Homo sapiens: one gene and its partners. The protein of the gene in region 5 interacts with the protein of the main gene of each other region in a pairwise test. Each region holds a gene or a part of one and is shown on either strand. Other genes may lie near its edges.

Region 1 (4,188 bases), on a different chromosome or scaffold from region 5:
GCTAGAGCGGTCCAGCCACGAACAGGAGGCCGGAGCCGTGCTGGCAGGAACACACGGTCCTATGCTCGTCCTATGTGCACCCCACCAGCAAGTCTCCCGCCTTCACAGCAGTCCCAATCAGTCACACAATTCAGGCATCGCAGGATGAAACATATTTAAGTCATTACACTGGGATACACTTTGTTACAGCACTGAACTTCTGCTGTTTGATCCTAGTTAACACCCCAAGGATGTCACGAAAACCTGTGCTCCTGTTCTTCATGTTATTCCTTGGTTAAGGCCATGGAATGCCTTCTCAACAGCAGCAGGGAAGGCCTGAACTCCTCACTGTGACCTACGGCACTCTGCAGAATGTGATTATCAATTATACCTTCTCTGGTTCCACTCTCACCATCCCCTGCATCTCACTCCATGCTATAACCTTCCAGTCCTTTGAAAACATCACACTCTCCTGCACCTCTGGGTCTCTGCAGCTGCTGGGCCCTCTCCTGGAAAAGTCTTTACCTTCCCCAAGTTGGCATCATCTTACCTGTCAGGTCCTCACTTAAAGGCCATTTGCTCCAGATGCCCTCCCAGAGTAGGGGAGACCCATGGACTGGGTTAAGTACCTTTGCTACAAGCTCCTGATGCATACCCCAAACACTCATTTTTGGTGTTTGGGGTGTTAACTAGGATCAAACAGCAGAAGTTCAGTGCTGTAACAAAGTGTATCCCAGTGTAATGACTTAAATATGTTTCATCCTGCGATGCCTGAATTGTGTGACTGATTGGGACTGCTGTGAAGGCGGGAGACTTGCTGGTGGGGTGCACATAGGACAAGTGCTTACTGAATCCTCACCTCCACTGGACAGCAAGCTCTGTGAGGGCACAGACCACACCTGCCTTCCATCACAGCATCTCCTCTGCCTGATGCAGCACTGGGTCCACAGTGGGCCCTCAAGAAACATTTATGGAACACATGAACAGATGCTGAATCATGCTGAAAGGGTCCACTTTACCTAAGCCTGAACCTGTCTGCAAAGCTACAAACACCAGAGTCTCAAGTTCTTGAAAAACTGGAAGGGACGTGTGATTGATTCCAGCCTTTCCTTTTACACGGCAGGAAACCCAGGCACACAACGATGACATAGGAACGGCTACCGACAAAGACTCAGGTCCCCGCCTGGTCCCCCCTCACCCAGTGTGCAGGGACTTGTCCAGGTAATGGAATTTCTGCAGGGAGTGGGGACTCTTGTCACTCACACCCAGCGAACAGACAGCAGGGCTGGGAACACCACACTCCCCACGCAGCTGGACCCTCTGCTCTCCGGAAGAGACCCCAGAATTGACTCAATTGTGAGACAGCAGGACTAGAGCCAGAAGCATAGGAGGAGCCATTCACTGTGGCCATTCAGCAAAAACTTGCCAATCATTATTCAGGCAAAAAGGTCGCTGTGACCACACCCCAAGGACATGGAAAACACTAGCTCACACAAGCATGCAAAGAATGTGAGTCCTGGGACCTGATGCAAATGACAAGGGAGCACTGATCACTCCTAACCTCTTGCTTTGATAATGGTCTATAATCAAAGGCAAAATAGTACAAGAGTTTGTCTGTTTCTCCATTAACACTCCAGCTTTAACACAGACTAGCTCTGTTTGAACACAAATCTGATGTGGGGAAAGACAGCACTGGTACTCATGTTTCTCCCTAGAGAAACGGCTCCCGTGTCATGCTGCCCCTGGTGCGTGAGTTCAGGGCACACAGGCGTGCTCTCTGATAGATGCTATGGATGACAACTGAGGGGCTGCCATGCCCATGTGTGCCCTCGTGACCCACACTTCTGGTCATGCTATATATCAAGACTCCAGTGTACTTACACATCTCCAAACACATTTCTGTTAACCTGTTGACAAATCAGGTTGAACATGGTATTAAGGGGCTGGCAAGAGCACTCGGCTCTGGTATTCAGTGTGCAGCAAGGCATCGTTGAACCCCTATGCACTTCACAGGAGCAGATCAACTTCAAGTGCAGCCTAATGCCTGGAGGGGAGACCGCTTACCAGCATTAAAGAAAAGCAGGCTGGGTGGAAAGGACAGGTATCAGGCAAGGAATAGCATCCATTACAAGGGTTAACGTGAACAACACTGTTAAAGGTTAAAATATGGACCCCTCGTAAAACTTCTCCCTGTACTTTTCCACGAGTAGGTCATCAGCTCTGACTTATAGGTCCCATTTTGCCACAGTTGCATCAATGTCCGCTTGGCCAAGACCACTAACTTCTGTAGGACCTCTGCCTTGAGACGAGAGAAACCCCGACTCCAGAAGGCTCTGCCCAGATCAATGACTCAAATCCACCTCAGTGGAAGTGGTGAGCCCAAGTGATGCTTCAGGAGGTCTTTGGTTTGGTCAAGGTGAGAGGGACTCCAGGACATGAGAACCAAAAACCAAGAAGAGCGGCTGGCTTAGTGGGCTCTGATCTTGATTTCACTATTTAGGAGCTAAGAAACCAAGTTTCAGGCTGGGTGTGGTGGCTCACACCTGTAATCCCAGCACTTTGGGAAGCCAAGGTGGGTGAATCACTTGAGGTCAGGAGTTCAAGACCAACCTGGCCAACACGGCAAAACCCTGCCTCTACTAAAAATACAAAAATCAGCCAGGCGTGGTGGTGCGCACCTGTAATTTGAGCTACTCAGGAGGCTGAGGCAGGAGAATTTCTGGAACCCAGGAGGGTGGAGGTTGCAGTGAGCCGAGATCACACAACTGCACTTCAACCTGGGCAACAGAGCAAAACTCCATCTCAAAAAAAAAAAGAAAGAAAGAAAACAAGTTTCTTTCCTAACCACCCTGGACCCCAGAATCTGACTACAGGAAAAAGAAATACACAGAGCAGGCCGAGTGCAGTGGCGCACGCCTGTAATCCCAGCACTTTGGGATGCCAAGGCAGGTGCATCACAAGGTCAGAAGTTCGAGACCAGCCTGGCCAACATGGTCAAACCTCGACTCTATTAGAGATACAAAAAATTAGCTGGGCGTGGTGGTACATGCCTGTGATCCCAGCTACTTGGGAGGCTGAGGCAGGAGAATCGCTTGAACCCGGGAGGTGGAGGTGGCAGTGAGCTGAGATTGCGCCACTGCACTCCAGCCTGGGTGACAAGATGAGACCCCGTCTCAAAAAAAAAAAAAAAAAAAAAAAAGAAAGAAACATACAGAGCAGCGGGAAATGAAGCACCTACTACAAGCCAGATGTTCAACTAGTTTGTGTGATCTTCACCATAAGAGCAAATAGCTACCAGGTCTTCAAGCTTTCTAGATATCTTTTTGGAGAGATTACCATATCTACAGAAAAGTGGCAGATAGGTGAAAGACATGGAAACAGAAACAGGTAAGCCACAGCTGAGTGGGCAAACCCTCCTGGCAGTCAGAGAACAGGTGCCAATTAGGGATGCAGAAACAGCAGATTATAAAGACCAGAATGCTTACTTCCCCTTCCAGTCCTGTAGTGAATCCCCCATTCTGATTCTTTGCTCAAACCTCCTGACTTTCTGGGTAAGCTGGTGCTGTTCTAGTCTAACTCGTTACTGTGGGTCTCTGAGTTTAGTTAATGCCAACCAGCATCCTCCAGCCAGGAGTTCACAAAGGAGGTGAACTCCTCAGCTCTCTCAGCCATGAGGGTAGAAGGCCAGTCCCAGAGGCAGGATCCAGCCCAAGCGCCCAGTCTTCCTGGAGTCCTGCAGAGCTCTGCTGTCCTTTCGTGGCATCAGCGTTGTACTGAGAACAGCTGTGGTTCACCCCAAGTCACAAGGTGGGCACCCACAGAAGTGTGGCTAGGCCTTGTTCTGTCAGGCAGCACAGAAGGGGTATGGGAAGAGCTCAGCTTCTCCTTTTGCTTCTATTTCTGCTCCTTGACCCAACCACACCCTCTCACTCTTGATACGCAAAATGGGACACAGGGGTTCCCACTGTTCCCTTGCTGTGCACCATAAGGCTCAGGCCACATGAAGGAGTCCTTAAGTGTAATGCACAGCTGGAAGTCACTGTTCCTTCCATGGGTAAAACTGGAGGCCGAATCGGCCGGGCAGGGTGGCTCACACCTGTAATCCCAGCACTTTGGGAGCCCAAGGTGGGAGGATCACGAGGTCAGGAGATCGAGACCATCCTGGCTAACATGGTGAAACCTTGTCTCTACTAAAATACAAAAAAAAAA
Region 2 (4,188 bases), on a different chromosome or scaffold from region 5:
GGAGAGGCAGGATGGCAAGGAGGTCGGGATCATCCCACCTGCTCCTCAGCATCACAAGACTCTCGCTTCATTGGAAGGATCTGGCTGAAATCCAAGCTCTGGGGGAAGTACAGGGAGTGGCAGATCTTTCTCGTCTGTGAATTCCTGATGGAGAATCGCATGAGGTGGATTGTCAGGGTCTGGGGCAAATGGGTCAGCTTCAAGACCTGAAAAATCAAAATCACTCTGGAGATGAAGTCTACTTGGAATGAGAGAGTCAGAGAAATGTCAGGGCTAGCAACGCGTTCTTCCCAAAAAGAGGGGAGCGGGGCGACATCACGGAGTTCAAGGCTCCTGTTCGCCGAATCTGCTGAGCTCCTCTGAGAATAATGCAAAACTTGGCTATTCTACCACCATGTGGCCCCCCACAAGAGGCACAAGGGCACAGGGCTCTGCACAGGTACCAGGACCCAGGGAGCCACCGCGTCTGCTCCAGGGAGCTGGTCTCGCCTGGAGGGAAACGCCCTGCCGGCTGCTCTCAGGCGCCCTCCTGCAGTCCCTCTCAGTGATGCGACATGAGAAGCCACATCCACGGCTCCAGATATCAGAACCACAGCGTCCCAGATACTAGCCAGACCCAGATTCCCTTTCTCACCCACCATGGGGTGTCCTCGGGGCCTCTGATGATTCTATCAGGAAATCCACGGGGGGCAACCCCAGACTAGTGAAGGACAGATGACCCCTGAACAGCACGGGTTTGGACTGTATGGGTCCGCTTATACACAAATTGTTGTAAATAAATACAGTCTGCCCTCCCCCATAGGCACGAGTTCCACATCTGCAACCAAATGCTCATCAAAAATAAAGTATCCCAGATGCACAACCGCATAGATGAGGGACTGACTTTTCCTATACGTGGGTTCCACAGGGCCGACTGGGTGTGACTTGAGTGTGTGTGGATTTTGGTAAAAGCAGGGGTCCTGGAACAAATCCCCCATATGCACCGAGGGACAGCTGAGTCTGATTTAGGGAATGAGTACCTGTTTCCCACGGGTCTTCTTCCCACAGTTCTCACAGAAGCACTTGCTTTTGCTTGATAACTCCCTGGGCTGGAAGAAGCAGTGCAGGGCGTCCTCCTGTCCCACCCAAGAGAACAGGGAAAAAGCAGCGTTGGTATTTCCCACCTAGAATACTATATTCATCTGTTCTCACACTGCTGTGAGACAATAGCTGAGACTGGGTAATTTATAAGAAAAGAAGTTTGATTGGCCCATGGTTCTGCAGGCCAACCGGAAGCATGGCAGCATCTGCTTCTAGGGAGGCCGCAGGAAGCTCCCAATCATGGCGGAAGGCCAAGCAGGAGCAGGTGTCTTACCTGGGAGGAGCAGGTGTCTTACCTGGGAGGAGCAGGTGCAAGAGACCAAGTGGGGAGCTGGAGTGCAGGGGCGCGATCTCAGTTCACCGCAATCTCCGCCTCCCGGGTTCAAGCGATTCTCCTGCCTCAGCCTCCTAAGTAGCTGGGACTACAGGCTGCGCCACCACGCCCAGCTAATTTTTTTATGTTTTTAGTAGAGACAGGGTTTTACCATGTTGGCCAGGCTGGTCTCAAACTCCTGACCTCAGGTGATCCACCCACCTCAGCCTCCCAAAGTGCTGGGATTATGGGCGTGAGTTACCACACCCAGCCTGGCTCCACACTTTTAAACAACCAGATCTCATGAGAGCTCACTGTCACAAAGACAGCACCACGGGGGATGGTGCCAAACCATTCACGAGAAACCCTCCCCCATGATCCAATGTCCTTCCACCAGGCTTTACCTCCAACACTGGGGATTACAATTGAACAGGAGATTTTTGGGCAGGGACACAGTCCCAAACTGTATCAGTTACAGCCTCCCCACACTTTGCAGCTGAGGGTTTCAGCTTTTCTTCTGGTTCTCCTCATATCCCCCTTAATGCCTGGCCTGGTGTGGTCCACTTGGCAGGATCTCAAAGGGCACCTACTGACTGGAGGAACAAAACAGGAGGGGGCTCCTATTAAGGGAGCAGTATGAGGGAAGTGGAGGTAGGAGGGAAAAACATTTTTGCCAAACAAAGGAGAAATTGGCCAGTGCCATGAAAATGAAATAAGTGACTTTCCAGAAGCCAGAGATAGATCAAAGAGGCAAGGGGGAATTGGCCACACTGTGCTGTGTGGTGTAATGGTTTGAGGGTTTGTCCTCCCCAAAACCCAGGTTGAAACTGAATCCCCAGTGTGGCTGTATGGAAAGGTGGGGACTTTGAGAGATAATTGGGGAGGGCAAGGTGGCTCATGCCTGTAATCCCAGGGAGGCTGAGGCAGGTGGATCATGAAGTCAGGAGTTTCAGACCAGCCTGGCCAACATGGTGAAACCCCATCTCTACTAAAAATACAGAAATTAGCTGGGCATGGTGGTGGGCACCTGTAATCCCAGCTACTTGGGAGGCTGAGGCAGGAGAATCACTTAACACCAGAGGCGGAGGTTGCAGTGAGCTGAGATTGTGCCACTGCACTTCAGTCTGGGCAACAGAGGAAGACTCTGTCTCCAAAAAAAAGGGGGGGGGGAGGTTATTGCATCATGAGGGCACAGCCCTCATAAATGAATTAATCCACTCATGGATTAATGGGTTAATCGGTTATCCTGGGAGTGGGACTGGTGGCTTCATACGAAGAGGAAGAGAGATTTGAGCTGGCACATTAGCATGCTCAGCCCCCTCGCCATGTGATGCCCTGCACTGCCTCGCCTCAGGACTCTGAGAGTTCCCACCAGCAAGCAGGCCCTCACCAGGTGCAGCCCCTCAACCTTGACTTCCCAGCCTCCAGAACTGTAAGAAATAAATTACCTAGTCTCAGATATTGAGTTATAACAACAGAAAATGGACTAACACATACAGGGGCAGCAAATACCAAGAGAATCCCCTTACCAGTGTCTTCAGGGGCTTTGAGTCCACATCAAAAAGAGAAAGTGGGAGGGTGAGCATGCTGCTGTTTCTGCTACTCTCCATGGCACAGTCAACGCAAATCAAGGAGTCCTTCACCCGGATCGTATACAGGGCCTGCAGTCTCTCCACCTGCAAGAGGGAGAGCGGAGAGGTGAGATGGGAACACCACCATAAGCCAGGTCAGGCCAACTGCCAGAAGGTGGAGCCAAGAGACAGAAGCTCCTCACAAAGGTGCAAAATAATACCAGTAACAATATTATGAAACTGTGATAAGTGTTTTATGTGGATTAACTCTTTTTTCTTTTTTTTTTTTTTTTTTTTGAGACAGAGTCTCGCTCTGTCACCCAGGCTGGAGTGCAGTGGCGCGATCTCGGCTCACTGCAAGCTCCGCTTCCCGGGTTCACGCCATTCTCCCGCCTCAGCCTCCCGAGTAGCTGGGACTACAGGCTCCCGCCACCACGCCCAGCTAATTTTTTGGTATTTTTAGTAGAGACAGGGTTTCACTGTGTTAGCCAGGATGGTCTCGATCTCCTGACCTCGTGATCCGCCTGCCTCAGCCTCCCAAAGTGCTGGGATTACAGGGGATTAACTCTTTTATTCCTCTACACACTACGGGAACAACAGCTGAATGAGTGAAATGAGCAGCATCTTAAGCTTCCGAGTGCTCTGGTTCTAGGTTCTTACCAAGTGCACATCAGTGATCTGGTCCTTAATCAGGTTCCAGAGTTTGAGGTACAGTTGGGCAGCATCATGTTGGACAAACACTGGCCACAGAGAAAAGGAACAGCCAATTAGTGAGGTCTTCAGAGTCGCTTCTCATGCCCTGGTACTTAGACACACATGAACACTCATCACTTTGTCTCTTCCTAGCCCTCCACCCCACTGCAAGGCTAAGTTGGCACGACAGAAGAAGTGATCAATAAATGAACAGTAAGTTTGGTATTGATTTTTGAGAACGCCTCTTAAAACTTAAGCTCCAGTGCCAGATGTAGTGGCTCATGCCTATAATCTTAACACTTCGGGAGGCCAAGGTGGGAGGATCGCTTGAACTCAGGAGTTTGAGACCAGCCTGGGCAACATAGCAAGACTCCGTCTCGATAAAAAATTTAAAAAAGTACTTGAGAGTAGCGGTGCACGCCTGTAGTCAGAGCTACTTGGGAGGCTGAAGCAGGAGGATCACTGGAGCCCAGGATGTTGAGGCTACAGTGAGCTGTGATGTCACCACTGCACTCAGCCTGGGGAATGAGA
Region 3 (4,188 bases), on a different chromosome or scaffold from region 5:
AAGACAGGCAAACATTAAAGTCTTTATACCCTTGAGCTACTGAAAGTTACATGGGAGGAATTAAAGAGGATTATTAGCTTTCCTGATTATTCAGCTAAAGACATAATTATGGGATTTAAAAACTGTTCATTTTTGCTCAGTGAAGAGGCAATAAGGTATTCACAGCTGAAATGCAAAGTTGGACAGCTTAAGAAACATTCAGGAAGGAGTCCAAGGTTACCCAGTTTGGTCTTGGGCTGATAATGGCACTCTAAACATTGCAGGCTGAGCAAGTCAAAAGACACCTGATGCCAAGTGACATCTCAATGAGTGGTCGGTGGTAGGATAGAAGCCTTGATGGAGTGGGCTCCACTTCATTCTATAACTTGGAGGGTAGGGGCTGTGGGCCTATTAAGCATTTCACTCTAGGCCTTCCAGAGCCTTTGTTCAGAACCATGCTGCTTATTAAGCATCATTTGCTGTCTCAGTCAACAAGTTGGAAGAGAGGAGGCAAGGAACAGGGGCCACAGTGCAGACTGTTTTCTAATCTAACCGGGGAAGCAAAGCACCTGCATAGGCAGAATATTCCCATCAGGAACCTCCCAGGCAGTTACTGGTTCTGGATAGGAGATGGTGTGAATTCTTAGCATCACTGGGGGCCTGGAGGAGGGGCAGCTTTGCCAGCATAGACAGAGTGACCTTGGACAAAGATCTGTGTGTTCAGCAAGCAAATCCTCCATGTTTTCCTAGGCAATCTTAACATCAAATAGTTCATATATTTCTGCTTTACCAATCATCAACGTACCCCAGAAATGCCAATTCGTGCACTCACTAAACCTCCCAGACAGCCTCTTTAACCCATTTGCAGCACAAAAATCCATTGTCAGACCACAGCTTCTGACTGCTACTTGGAAAATTAAGGTGGCTGTGCCTATGGAGCCAGGAATAACTGGTGTTGTTATGACTTCCTCTCTGATAGTGGAGAGTACTTGGGTGTTACAGTGAGGACATGGTTCTCTCAGCTCTCTTATATGGCCAGCATATTACAGGCAGCTTAAAAGTGGCCACCTCGGGCCAGACCAAGAAAGGGGCTGTATTAGTCTGTTTTCACGCTGCTGATAAAGACATACCCAAGGCCGGGCACAGTGGCTCACACCTGTCATCCCAGCACTTTGGGAGGCTGAGGTGGGTGGATCACCTGAGGTCAGGAGTTTGAGACCAGCCTGACCAACATGGAGAAACACCATCTCTACTAAAAAATACAAAATTAGGCCGGGCGCGGTGGCTCACGCCTGTAATCCCAGCACTTTGGGAGGCCAAGGCGGGCGGATCACGAGGTCAGGAGATCGAGACCATCCTGGCTAACACGGTGAAACCCTGTCTCTACTAAAAATACAAAAAATTAGCCGGGCGAGGTGGCGGTCGCCTGTAGTCCCAGCTACTCGGGAGGCTGAGGCAAGAGAATGGCATGAACCCCAGGGGGCGGAGCTTGCAGTGAGCCGAGATTGCGCTACTGCACTCCAGCCTGGGCGACAGCAAGACTCTGTCTCAGAAAAAAAAAAAATTAGCCAGGTGTGGTGGCTCATGCCTGTAATCCCAGCTACTCAGGAGGCTGAGGCAGGAGAGGTTGCAGTAAGCCGAGATCATGCCATTGCACTCCAGCCTGGGCAACAAGAGTGAAACTCTGTCTCACAAAAAACAACAACAACAAAAGACATACCCAAGGCTGTACAACTTACAAAAGAAAGGTTTCATTGGGCTTACAGTTCTACATGGCTGGGGAAGCCTCCCAATCATGGTGGAAGGCAAGGAAGAGCAAGTCATGTCTTATGTGGCTGGCAGCAGGCAAAGAGAGAGAGCTTGTGCAGGGGAGTTTCTCTTTTTCCATCAGATCTCATGAGACTTATTCACTATTGTGAGAACAGCATGGGAAAGACTTGCTCTCATGATTCAATTACCTCCCACCAGGTCCCTCCCACAACATGTGGGAATTCAAGATGAGACATGGGTAGGGACACAGCCAAAGCATATCAGGGGCAAACTCCCCAAGAGGAATCAGTAGGGTACAACCATGGCATGGCTGGAAACTGCTGAGCAACTTTACTCACACAGGAGAATCACAGAACAAGCATGCCTTCATGCAGAAGGTGCCAATAGTCAGCTTAACATGAGATATACTTTGGGCTGTTCTCAAAGCAGTTCAGTTTCATGAAAACCTGTATTGATTACTTATGCAGTGCTGAGTACTGTAACTGAGGTCTATCCCAGCTCATGGAGCAAAATCAATTAATTTTCCCCCACTACCTGGTGTCTTATCCATTTCCAATTTAATCAGAGATGTGTTCTGTTCTTACTATGTGTCTGGCTCTGTGGACAGAAACTGAATGAAAGTGTCTGCTCTCAGCAGGTACACGGTCCAGCGGGGAGAGACAAAGAACAATAGTACAGTGAGGGGGATGCTGTACTGGGGAGGGCACAGGTATCTTAGAAGCCCAACAAGGGAGACACTTACTATCCCCTTCATGGTATTAATAATCAACATTGATAATCCTTCAGGGGAGTTGGGGAAGGAGTTGAAGGAGGAGCAGCTGTTGACTGGGCAGAAGAGGTAGAGAAAGTACATCAGGGAGTGCAGACCCTTTGGGAAGTAGCAGCAGCTCACTGTGACACTGGTGAGAGGAGGGCAATGAGGCTGTAAGTTAGGTGGGCTAGGCCAGCCGCAAATGGCCGTGGGAGCTGTGCTCTGGAGTTGGACACTGTTCTGGAGATGGAGGGCAGCCACTGAAGACAGGGAAACTCTTGGCAGTGGTAACAGTGGCTGGGGGAGGGAGCAGGAAAAGCTCTCAAGCACTATGGATAGTGTTTGCTCAAGAGATGATGAAGGCATGAAGTGGGGCAGTAAGAATAAGGAGGCAGGAAAGGGAGAAATTGAGAAATAGTGGAAGGTAAAATCATTAGGACATGTGGAATGAAAGAGTAGGAGGAACCAAAGATGACTTTCAGGGCACAGGTATCCGGGAGATGAAGAGAAAAAGGAGATCCAAAAACTAGCACCAGGTTAGCCGAGGGAATGAAAGGTCCCACAGAGGGAGTGGCCCTCAGTGTCACACACAGCACAGAGGAACATTTCCAGAGAATGGCGCCCAGAGGACTGAGGAAGGACGGGAAGCAATGGGGTAGAACCAGTAGATGTCCACAACTACATTAAAATGTCTGGCTGAAAAGGGAGGGAGAGAGGTAGTGATGAAGTTAGGAGGACATGAAGTCAAGAAAAGAGTCTTTTGTTCTTTTAAAACAGGAGACTTTGTGTATCGTGTGTGTGTGTAACATGGAGGAAGTTTCCAGAAGAGAGAAAGGAAGAGCTCAAAAATGCAAGAGATAAATATTAGCGAGGTGTAGCTCAAGGGTCAGGGCAGCAGTGGTGAGCCCAGGAGGGAAAGTTCTCAACGGCTCTCAGTAGAGTCAAAAGTGTGGCAAGTCCCTGGGAAGCACAATCTGACAGGCGTGAGGTGCCAACCCAGTGCCATGGGCTGTGCAAGACTCTGAGAATGTAGCAAAGAGTGAACACACTTGGCCTTACCTTTTAAGTTGGGTCGGTGCCCTGACCCTACCTCCCACCTTGCCTCCACTCCTCCCTGTCTGCCTTTCTCTGGTGCTATCTCTGAAGTCAACCCACCACATGCAGCAACAGACACTACAGATAGGATATCCCTGAAAAAAAAAAGACAATTAATCTAACCACTCACCCTGCCATCAGGAGCGGCACTGTTAGGAATGATACAGATCTGCTCCATAGAGGAACTGGGTTTGTGATAGGCAAGTAAAGGATACTGGTGTCTCCTGGGAAACATGCTGTGACCTCAATATGGGCTATGTATCTTGGTTATTGGAAATATATGTATTCTCATTGTTACAGACTTAATTTTTTAATACCAATGATTTAAGGAGCCAGACTTAAGTACAGAAAGGTCTGAAGAAGCGTTTCTTAAATTAAATCCAAACTCTTCAGTAAGACAAGGCCTGATTAAGAGTAGAATGTGTGCTAACTATTCAAAGAGCTGTAGGTTTTAAGCGCCTTTTGAAATCTCACTCTGCTGAGATCATTTAGTTCAAGTCAGTACTACAATTGTTTGTGACTGTCACCAATAAAGCCAGAGGTCACATAAGAACTGGTTAAATTGCAAGACTGCAGCAGTGGCAGGAATTGAT
Region 4 (3,394 bases), on a different chromosome or scaffold from region 5:
AAAAAACTCTAGTCACTTTTTTATTTTTATTTTTTTGAGACAGAGTCTTGTTCTGTCACCCAGTCTGGAGTGCAATGGTCCGACCTTGGCTCACTGCAACCTCCGCCTGCAGGGCTCAAGCAATCCTCCTACCTCAGCCTCCCAAGCAGCAGGGACCACAGGTGCACACCACCACACCCGGCTCGTTTTTGTATTTTTGTAGAGACGGGGTTTTGCCATTTTGTCTAGGCTGCTCTCAAACTCCTGGGCTCCAGCCATCCACTTGCCTCGGCCTCCCAAAGTGCTGGGATGGCAGGTGTGAGCCATTGCTCCCAGCTACATTAGTCAAATATTATGAGATGTTCTGCAAATATGTTTTTTTTCTTTTGCGGCTCTTCTGCCTCTGTTTCTTACTATTCCTTCTGCCTCGAATGGCTCCTCACATCAACTTTCTAAATCCTGCCCATTCTCCCAAGTCTATCTCAAATAGAAATGCCAGAAGCCTTTGCTCATTTGCCCACCTAGTGGTAAGAGCTTCCTCCTTTGAAGGGTCTTAAAGCACTTTATACTGCTTTTTACTCAGATTAAATTATAATAAATTCAATTCAGTTTACATATTAAATGCATATATTTGGTGCAGGGGGAAACAGGAATTGAGAGACAGGAAAAGTCAAAAAGATTACACTAGAGTGGTTGGGCGCAGTGGCTCACACCTGTAATCCCAGCACTTTGGGAGGCCAAGGTGGGTGGATCAACTGAAGTCAGGAGTTCAGGACCAGCCTGGCCAACATGGTGACACCCCGTCTCTACTAAAAATACAAAAATTCGCTGGGCGTGGTGGCGGGCACCTGTAATCCCAACTACTTGGAAGGCTGAGCCAGGAGAATTGCTTGAACCTGGGAGGCAGAGGTTGCAGTGAGCAGAGATCGCGCCATTGCACTCCAGCCTGGGTGACAAGAGCAAAACTCCGTATCAAAAAAAAAAAAGAAAAAAAAGAAAAAGAAAATTACACTAGAGTAAGCAGCAGCACCAGAGCACGCACAGACCAGAAGCTGTGAGGAAAGGGGTGCGCTGGACAGGGACAGAGGGAGCCCCAGGTGGACGGACAGAAGATTTCGCCTTCTATTCTATTGACCTGTAGGCCAGGCTTCCCTGCGTCTCCAGATGGTGGCCCTCGTGAGTACATTTCCTCATATTTGCGTCCTAGACCACACCCAATAAATACAGTGACTTTTGCTCATACACTCAATGAGTTCATTAAACTGTCACTTCCCAATATTTGAAATGAGACAGCCCATAGCAGTCAAGATGAGAGAAAGGCAAAATTTGTGCCATTTATTTAGGAATTTCAGATAAATTGTCATAAAAGCAAATACTTTAAAAATTGGTTGTATTCATCCAAATTAAAGTTACAAAGGCAAATTTATTTTCCCACAGATCACTTTCAATTAGCGTTGAAACATTTAAATTCCTAAGAGGTGTATTTTAATAAATTATTTAGCTCAAAATGTTTAATGCTTTAAAAGCATCTATAATATGTGAAATTCTGTTCCAAATCAAACTGTCATTGTAACAGCACATTTGTTCCCAGAGTGTCATGATGACAAACTGGCCTAATATGGATTTATTTTTAAAAGAGCTTAAAAATGAAATCACAAATGATGTCATAAATTTCTTTCATGGCTCGAATACCCTGCTTCATTTATTTTATAGTAATTATGTTGCATTACAATTCAAGCAATTACATTAATTAGATCATTGATTCTTTGAATTAATCCCATTTTACAAATCTTGGTGAAAATTAATTAAGCCACAGACTCCCCACAGGTGCGGCTGTCAGGTAGCTCACATAAAGCTTTAGCACCAGTGTTCATGTGTGCCTGGGGGGTGTGTGGTGTCTGGGCGGAGAAGGAAAAAGGGAATTTCCTTTTTTCTTTTATGAACTTCACCAGATAAGAGTCATTAAATCATCTAATTATAATTATACACATTATAAGTTCATCTATTCCATTCTCAAATCTATGTAACTCCAGACATATGGACAATCTACCCATTTTTACAGATATCCAGGACTGTATGCAACAAGCTTAATAATGCATTCTGAAATGTAAAATAATGTCTGTTCATGGGTAAGAATTTCTTCTCTGTTGAATATAGTTCCAATCCTTACTGTGGCAGAATCATAGAATCATAGGATGTTAAAATTGAGAGATGGGTTAATGATCTCCCTGGATAATTCCTACTTTTTAAAGATGAGAAAACAAAAATATAGAGTTAAATTGGATGAAGTCGTACGACTACTTAGTGAAAGAGTCAGGATTATACCAATGCTATGAACTGGTGAGTGTTGTTCAATGTTATTTCCCTGAGAAAGCTCCTGTGCTCCTACAGATACGAGACTCAGAAACTGGGCCCTGTGGCTACGTCCTGGCTTACAGCCTCTCCAGGCACAATTCTGAAGAAGCGTATTTGAACTAGAACATTCTAAAGAGAAGATGGGGGAGGAAAACACCTAAGTCAGTATGCTGGCAACAAGACGAACAGCGATCAGCCTTGTGGTGATTAAAGGCACCAACTATAAAATGCACAGTCAATATTTGTTCCCAGGAATAAAACCTTAAAGTGGAAGTGAAATATGGCACAGATATGAATAAAATAAGGTAACAGACAACTAAAATGTCAGCTTGCTGGGAGTACCTTCCTCAGAACTAGTCCTGTGAGTCCCTTCTGGGAATGACACAGCAGCACGACGTTGCTTTTCTGTTTATCGCGATTATGTCTCTACTTCTCCCCATCTCCCACAGCCCCAGCTATCACCTCGGTGAGGACACTGCCTGTCTTAGATATCTTCTCCCTCCACCTTGAACAGTACCTGGCCGAGGGTTAATCGATGCACAGTGGGTTTATATTGTGTCAACTTCGCGAAGCTGAAAAGACTTTTCCTTGCACCGCTCCGGGTTAGTGTTCCCCACAAGAGGCAATTGCGTGAGATTTTGAAGGCGGAAGTGCAGCAGTAGCTTGCTCTCTGCCCTCAGTATGTCTGTGTCAAGTGCCAGACGCCACCACAAGCTCGGCACTCCGAGTCTCATCTGCTGCCCTGCAGGGGGTGGGTGACGGCAGTGTGCTCACAGCTTCTCCAGCTCCTGCTCACCTCCTCCTGGCTTGAGATTCGACCATCCTCCAGAGCTCCAGTCCCTCCTCCCAGGTTCTAGCTTCCCCTGCGTCCCCTCCTAACATCCAGCTTTCCTTCTTAAATCCGTGGACTTTAGACAGCAGCACCAGACACAGAAGCGAAAACCTCAAATACGCTATTTAATCAGCTCACACAACTGCTCTAGCAATTTTACTTCTTGGATTGATTGAACCCAGACTGATACAGAATTTGGTTCTGGAAGTGGACCAAGGAGAACCTTCA
Region 5 (3,676 bases):
TAGATTTCCTATTCGGTTCAACTGGTACAGCTTTTTTCTTCCCTTAATTGAATTACTTATCACTGAAAGTTTAACAACCTCCTTGAAAGTCAGTTGGGAAAGGTAACCAATCTAACAGAACCATATGAACTCTGCCGTTATCAGTTGAGGACCCTACGCTTTCACTTAAAGAAAGGGTTTGAAGTATGACACCACTGCACATAACCAACAGGATAGGAACTGTAGATTTTTAGAGCTCTAAAGGGTTGATCATTTAGTTCAATTCCTCCTTAAGAATGAGAAACTGAGTCAGAGGAAAAGGAAATGACCTTCCAAAGAGCATCAAGTGGGTGGAAGAATTGGGCTGGGATTCAGGTCTCCCGATGTTCAATTTGGGCCCTAAAAGTGCCTTGGACATTAAAAGTTATAACTATGCCTAAAAATAAAGTGGTAATTTGAAACAAAATCAGTTTGTTTCAGAATCGTTACTCTTTCAGAGAGAAAAAATATCTACGCCTCAGGAAGTAGAATGTTGGCTTAAATAAACCCTCCTTCTCAACCCTTTTCGTTAATAATTGAATATTTAAATGTCAAAGATGATTTGAGTATTCAGAGGAAAAACTGACATGAAAGAAACAGGTTTGAACCAAAATGTCTTTTATTTGAATACTGAATACATTCAGTTAGGACATAACAGTGTGCTAAGAATAAAATTTTTTAAAGAAAAAAATAGCACTGGCAGCAATACAATTAAAATGGAAAAAGCATAATTTCTAATAATTTCAAATATAACACAAATGACAAATAGATACATTATCATTCTGTGAACTCCACTTAAGACTTCCTTTATGTGACAAGTTGTAGTTTAAGCTTACTTGAGACATGAGTATTTGGAATTTTCAAAAAATACCAAATATATAAAAAATAGACACAACAAATGGAAGAGTATATCATGATTCATTAGACACTTTTAATGAAAATAGTGCTTGACAATTAGAAAACAGTTAAAATTTTTGCTTTAGAAAAAAACTACCTCAAACTAATGTTCATATTAGAGGTGACAGTGCTATTTGTGTTTCTAGCATTCCATATTGAAGTTTATCTTTTAAATACAAAAAAAATATGCTCTGCCCATTACAGCAGGATGACATGAACTTAGTTTTCTGTTCCTCCAGATGCTCAGAGCAGCAACAAGACAAGTCTCAGGATCATCATGAGGCTGGATTTAAAATAAAACAAAGACAAAGGGAGAGTCACTTTTATCTGGCATAAGACAGAAAGGGCCATGCACTCGCCTACCCAGTAGTGTTACTAATCCTTGGCTTGGGGGCTCTCCCAGCTCAACCCCTTGGAGGATTAAAACATCCCAGACATAACTGAATTAGCCACTTTAAAATGTTCGCTAAATGAATAAGGAAAAATCAGAACCTGTTGTTCTGAAAACCTTGGATGAGGGTTTATAAGAGAAAGGTTTGGGAAGAAACAAACTTTCAGAAGCTAGTAAAATAAAGCAACTTGAAAAAATAATCGAGGACCAACTTGGGGCAGTTACTAATTCAATCTCAGCTACTTTCTATTAACTGAGGCCTTCTTCCGGATCCATAAACCCTACTTCATTTTTTCTTCCTTTTTTTTTTCTTTTTTCTGATGGAGTCTCACTCTGTCACCCAGGCTGGAGTATAGTGACGCAGTCTCGGCTCACTGCAACCTCCACCTCCTGAGCTCAAGCAATTCTCCTGCCTCAGCCTCCCAAGTAGCTGGGATTACAGGTGCCCGCCACCACACTTGGCTAATTTTTGTAGAGATGGGGTTTTGCCATGTTGGCTAGGCTGGTCTTGAACTCCTGACCTCAAGTGATCCACCCGCCAAAGCCTTCCAAAGTGCTGGGATTACAGGCATGAGCCACCGCACCCAGCCCATAAACCCTACTTCTGATTCTTCCCACCACCAAGTATCACTTTTAGAACAGGGCTATAACTGGAAAGCTGTCTTTTGTAATCACACTCCTCCTCCCCTCCCTGAAACATAATACATAGTCACACTAGAAAATTCTACACAAAAGTAGAAAGAGGAACATTACAATTATTCATCACACTATCACCCACAGAAAAACACTAACAGCTTGAAATATTTCCTTCCTGTTTTTTTATACACAAACTTTTTTTAATCACACTATATGTGGTTGTTTTCATCCTGTTTTTATACCTTATTATGTCACTAAGATTTTCCAATGCCACCAAATCATTTTTGAAAACATAAAAATGTAATGCTCATTCAATATTCCATTAAATGGACAAAACATTTTTTCAAACATCTCCTTACTGGTGAACTGTTAGGTTGTTCCTAATTTTTCAGTCTATTGTGTTTTCACTAGAAATAAAGTTGCAATGAACATCAGTCTTTGTGCATATCTCACTGCTTTGGAATAAATTCCAAAAAGTGAAAATGTCTATCAAAGGAAATAAACATGTTTATGGCTTTCAACATATAAAGCCAGCTTTCTGGAGAAATTTTTAAAATGTTATCTCTAAATTTTTATTTGGTAATATGCTTAATCTCATGGATAGAATTACTGGATCAAATTAAGAGAAACTTGAGGCCCTCTGTTTATCTTTTAAAAAATATTAAAACTTCTCTCTTAAAAACTCTTAAAAATATTAAATTTCTGTCCCTTAAAAACTTGAAATAACTGTATCACACTGTCACTCTGTCAAACTCTCTAAAAGGGACTGAGTATTAGATTTAAATGAACACATTTAGTGTTGCAGATGGGTGAATCTTGAGGAAAAATGAGGCTGAGTTTAGTTAGCTCTTTCTTCTGAAAAAGGCAAGTATGCCTATGTGACCAGATACTACAGCAACACTATGCGTATCCAATAAGAATGTTCATGGGTACATCAATATCAAAGACCCACTGAATCCATGCTATCTTAAGGTTTTTACTGTCATGCTTATTATAACAAAAAGGACTTTGATCTTTCAAATTAAAATTGATGTTTCCCAAAAATTCAGCACTTCAAAACAACAGCAGAGGAAAGTATTGATCAAAATAGTTTTACTTACCTTAAACCTGCAACCAAACCAGCAGGCATTATTTTCTTGGACCTCTTAAATCTCACACCCATTATGGTAGCCAGGAAGAAAGCTGTAACTGAAAACCAAACTAATTCATGAACCAGAGTTTCAAACATGTTATCAATGCTTGTGGGAAAACAGCGGGTACCATTTAAAGCTTTCTAACATTACAACTATTATGGATAGGTACTGAGTTGCCATTGTCTTGAAAAGATAAAGTGCTCTATTAAAACACTTCATGGCCGGGCCAGTGGCTTACGCCTATAATCCCAGCACTTTGGGAGGCAGAGATGGGTGGATCACCTGATGTTGGGAGTTTGAGGCCAGTCTGACCAACATGGAGAAACCTCGTCTCTACTAAAAATACAAAAAAAATTAGCAGGGCATGGTGGCACATGCCTGTAATCCCAGCTACTCGGGAGGCTGAGGCAGGAGAATTGCTTGAACCGGGGAGGCAGAGGTTGTGGTGAACTGAGATCACGCCACTGCACTCCAGACTGAGCAACAAGAGCGAACTCTGTCTCAAAAAAACAACAAAAGAACAAACAAAGAAACACTTCATCATCATCTACCTCGCCGAAAAGGTTTCTGGGTAAACAAACATGTTAAAATCCATTCCTGA
Region 6 (4,188 bases), on a different chromosome or scaffold from region 5:
TTAAAGAGCTCCTCAGTGTAGACAAAATAGCCTTATACTAGAAGAAGATGCCATTGAGGACTTTGATAGCGAGAGAGAAGTCAGTGCCTAGCTTCAAAGGAGGGGTGATCCTCTTGTTAAGGGTTAATGCTGTTGGAGGATTGACTCCAGTTTTGAAAGAAGTTGTGGTAAAATGCTATCAGACAGTATTGCATGCTTTAGAGAAATCTTCATTGAAAGGATGAGTCAATGCAGCAAACTTCATTATATTTTAAGAAATTGCCACAGCCACTCCAGCCTTCAGAAACCACTGCCTTCATCAGTCAACAGCCATCAACATGGAAGTGAGACCCTCCACCAGCAAAAAAAATGATGACTCACTGAAGGCGTAGATGATCTTTAGCAGGTTTTAGCAAAGTATTTTTAATTAAGGAATATATATTTTTAAGACATAATGCTGTTGTACACTTAATATACTATAATATAGTGTAAACAATTTTTATATGCAGTGGGAAACCAAAAAATTTGTGTGACTTACTTACTGCAATTGCAATATTTGGTTTATTGCAGTGGTCTGGAACCAAATTTGAAATGTCTCTGATGCTTGTACTGCTCTAATCTTGTACCTTTTAAAATCTTTCGGCTGGGTTAGTTGTCCTAGTTTCAACAGTGCTATGTATGAAATATATACATATGGTCATGAAATACATTTTTTTCCTGCAGAAGTCAAATTTTCTACTACTCTACTGGGATGACTGTGGGAATTGTGGCCTCTCTGCTAATCATCATTTTTATACTATCTAAGTTTATGCCTAAGGTAAGTATCAGAATCTTCATGTGCAGCTAGAATGAATTTGGATAGCTGAAGGACTGTTTTCCTGGGTAATCTTAGAAAACTGAAAATGTGTATTGATGGCTGATGAGTCAATATCCTACTCTCCTTGATTCAGAAAGGTACTTTCCACGATGAAACTTGGAGCCTGATTACAAATTCTTTCTTTTTATATAAAATCCTGTGCTCAGAGGGGGATTAAAGTCTGCTTCCTGTTTTTTAATTATATAGCCAGGCTTTTAAGTTATTTAGCATTTCATCTTCCCAGTGTTCGTTGCAGACTGTACCATTTTAAGTATAAAGGACATCTTTTTAAGAGAAGTGTTTTTTGTGCATTTTGAGTAGGTTGAATTTTTTAAAAAAAAAATCATAGTTCCATTTTGCTTCTTTTATGTATGGAAAGCCTGTTGTAACTTTTTGCTTTCACTTCTACTCTCTGTCTTAGAAAAGTCCCATTTACGTCATCCTGGTGGGAGGCTGGTCTTTTTCTCTGTACCTCATTCAACTAGTTTTTAAAAATTTACAAGAGATCTGGAGGTGTTACTGGCAGTATCTTTTAAGTAAGTGTTGTCGGTTTTGCTTTCCTTTTGTACGTTTATAGGCTGTTTCAGTTAATTTGATCATGAAAAGATTTTGCCTGCTTATGGGATTTAATAGTTCATGTCATTTTTTTAAACTTTTAAAAATCATAGTTTTTCACTTATTTCTAATCCCTCTACAATTATCACCTTCTCTTAAATTAGAATGGTGCTGTTAAGGCGAAGATGTTCATTTATTGGTATTTATAAATATACCTTTCTTTACACAATAAACATCTTTCTGAAAAGCTGTAAGTTGACTTTATTAATGGAATCATATTTTAAATATACTTGGGGACCTTAAGTAAAAGACTCCGCAGTTAATTTTTTTCTCCTTCATTTCTGAATGAACTGCTGTAGATTTTATTTACAAAGTAAAAATCCTTGGTCATATAGATAGTAACCTTTGAGTTATCCTTTGAAGGGTGATTAATCTGGATTTCTGTATATTGGTTTTTTAAAATAGTCTATTTCAGGGTTGTTCAACATGTACCTTTAATGTTCTGTTTGAACCAAATAAATTTGGGACAGCAGAAAGGATAGAAACTTAGAGAAATATATTCTAAGAAAAAAGTGTGAAAAATTAAGTAAAAATCTGATTTCCTAGTTCAATTGGTGCTATATAGTAAATTAACTACTGCTTCCCACACAAATTATTTTTACCAAGTATAGATGAAAAAGAATGTCTTCTGATAACTCTTCTCATAGGTTATGTCCTCACAGTTGGATTCATGAGTTTTGCAGTATGTTACAAGTATGGGCCCTTGGAGAATGAACGAAGTATCAACCTGCTGACCTGGACCTTGCAGCTGATGGGCCTGTGTTTCATGTATTCTGGCATCCAGATACCACATATTGCCCTTGCCATTATCATCATTGCTCTTTGTACTAAGAACCTGGAACACCCTATTCAGTGGCTGTACATCACCTGCAGGTGACTGAAAGGCAATGTAACTTAATATTGACAGGTACATTGTGGGATGCAGTTGCAGCAAGAGGATACAGAGGTGTTGACCTGGGAGCTTCTTTGTTAATGAAAAGTCATTGTATTGTACTTCCACTTTTGTTCCTTCCCGAGTCTATTTTTTTTTTTTTACTTTCTATAGGAATTTTTATATTTTTATTCTAGTCATTTTATATAAAATGTCTAGTAAAATGTCATGTGTTCCTGTTACCACAAGGTGGTGCAAATTCTATCACTGTTTTTTTGAGATGGAGTCTCGCTCTGTCGCCCAGGCTGGAGTGCAGTGGCGTGATCTCGGCTCACTGCAACCTCCACCTCCCGGGTTCAAACGATTCTTCTGCCTCAGCCTCCTGAGTAGCTGGGATTACAGGCATGCGCCACCACATTCAGCTAATTTTTATATTTTTAGTAGGGTTCCCCATGTTGACCAGGCTGGTCTTGAACTCCTGACCTCAAATGTCAGGAGTTCATAAAGTGCTGAGGAGCTCCCAAAGTGCTTGGATTACAAAGTGCTGGGATTACAGACATGAGCCACTGCGCCCCGCCACAAATTGTATCGCTTTTATACCGTATGCTCATTGAGGTCTCCTGGGTTCAGATTTTTTTTTTGAGACAGAGTCTCTCTCTGTCACCCAGGCTGGAGCACAATGGCGTGATCTCGGCTCACTGCAGCCTCCACCTCCCGGGTTCAAGTGATTCTTCTGCCTCAGCCTCCCGAATAGTTGGGACTACGGGTGGGCGCCACTATGCCTGGCTAATTTTTGTATTTTTAATAGAGATGTGGTTTCACCATGTTGGCCAGGGTGGTCTCAAACTCCTGACCTCAGGTGATTTGCCCACCTCAGCCCCACAAAGTGCTAGGATTATAGGCGTGAGCCACCTCACCCAGCCCATTTCAGACTATTTCTCAGTGGCTTTCAGATTGCTCTGGAGGTCTTAGTCTTATTTTAAGATGTAATTCATAGCATGTTTTGTCACCTTGCATAATAAATATGGAATGTTACTAGGTCCTGAAGTTGTCTATTATAGATAGTCAAGGTGATGCTTTCAGTTTGGGAAACCAAGTTACTGGACCACAATCTTTTTTTTTTGAGATGGAGTCTTGCTCTGTCACCAGGCTGGAGTGCAGTGGTGCTATCTCAGCTCACCGCAACCTCTGCCTCCTGGGTTTAAGCGATTCTCCTGCCTCAGCCTCCTGAGTAGCTGGGGTTACAGGTACATGCCACCATGCCCAGCTAATTTTTGCATTTTTATAGTAGAGATGGCGTTTCACTATGTTGGCCAGGATAGTCTCAATCTTGACCTTGTGATCTGCCCACCTTGGCCTCCCAAAGTGCTGGGATTACAGGTGTGAGCCACCTTGCCCGGCGTTTTTTTTTGTTTTTTTTTTTTTTTGAGATGGAGTTTTGCTCTTGTTGCCCAGGCTGGAGTGCAATGGCATGATCTCGGCTCACTGCAACCTCCGCCTCCCTGGTTCAAGCGATTGTCCTGCCTCAGCCTCCCGAATAGCTGGGATTACAGGTATGCACCACCATGCCTGGCTAATTTTGTATTTTTAGTAGAGATGGGGTTCCTCTGTGTTGGTCAGGTTGATCTCCAACTCCTGACCTCAGGTGATCTGCCTGCCTTGGCCTCCCAAAGTGCTGGGATTATAGGCGTGAGCCACTGTGCCTGGCTAGAACCACAGTCTTATACCATGATTTTCTGTTATTTTCCCATCTACTAGAAAATAAGTAAGTATTTTATCATTTATTGGAAAATAAAGTGAGTTTGTTCACATTAGTGAATAATATTGACTATAATTTTTTACTTTCTATAGGCATTTTTATATTTTT

The links.
Region 1: the proteins of TMEM14A (region 5) and CLN8 interact in a two-hybrid assay, tested with the Homo sapiens proteins (one study listed by BioGRID).
Region 2: the proteins of TMEM14A (region 5) and USP18 interact in a two-hybrid assay, tested with the Homo sapiens proteins (one large-scale study listed by BioGRID and IntAct).
Region 3: the proteins of TMEM14A (region 5) and MTNR1B interact in a two-hybrid assay, tested with the Homo sapiens proteins (one large-scale study listed by BioGRID and IntAct).
Region 4: the proteins of TMEM14A (region 5) and MTNR1A interact in a two-hybrid assay, tested with the Homo sapiens proteins (one large-scale study listed by BioGRID and IntAct).
Region 6: the proteins of TMEM14A (region 5) and NEMP1 interact in binary tests that used the Homo sapiens proteins (3 or more experiments, as listed by UniProt).

Annotation. Positions count from the first base shown.
Region 1 is NC_000008.11:1,766,556-1,770,743, reverse strand, and holds part of CLN8 (protein CLN8), read right to left. Parts: intron 1-4,188. UniProt on the Homo sapiens protein: Could play a role in cell proliferation during neuronal differentiation and in protection against cell death.
Region 2 is NC_000022.11:18,166,771-18,170,958, reverse strand, and holds part of USP18 (ubl carboxyl-terminal hydrolase 18), read right to left. Parts: intron 3,705-4,188; coding exon 3,625-3,704; intron 3,070-3,624; coding exon 2,923-3,069; intron 1,116-2,922; coding exon 1,020-1,115; intron 207-1,019; coding exon 39-206; intron 1-38. UniProt on the Homo sapiens protein: Interferon-induced ISG15-specific protease that plays a crucial role for maintaining a proper balance of ISG15-conjugated proteins in cells. Regulates protein ISGylation by efficiently cleaving ISG15 conjugates linked via isopeptide bonds.
Region 3 is NC_000011.10:92,971,963-92,976,150, reverse strand, and holds part of MTNR1B (melatonin receptor type 1B), read right to left. Parts: intron 1-4,188.
Region 4 is NC_000004.12:186,535,394-186,538,787, forward strand, and holds part of MTNR1A (melatonin receptor type 1A), read right to left. Parts: intron 3,319-3,394; exon of another isoform or gene 2,852-3,318; intron 1-2,851.
Region 5 is NC_000006.12:52,683,532-52,687,207, reverse strand, and holds the end of TMEM14A (transmembrane protein 14A), read right to left. Parts: intron 3,131-3,676; coding exon 3,043-3,130; intron 1,199-3,042; coding exon 1,159-1,198; 3' UTR 620-1,158; downstream 1-619. UniProt on the Homo sapiens protein: Inhibits apoptosis via negative regulation of the mitochondrial outer membrane permeabilization involved in apoptotic signaling pathway.
Region 6 is NC_000012.12:57,061,254-57,065,441, reverse strand, and holds part of NEMP1 (nuclear envelope integral membrane protein 1 isoform a precursor), read left to right. Parts: intron 1-702; coding exon 703-796; intron 797-1,256; coding exon 1,257-1,371; intron 1,372-2,097; coding exon 2,098-2,323; intron 2,324-4,188. UniProt on the Homo sapiens protein: Together with EMD, contributes to nuclear envelope stiffness in germ cells. Required for female fertility. Essential for normal erythropoiesis. Required for efficient nuclear envelope opening and enucleation during the late stages of erythroblast maturation.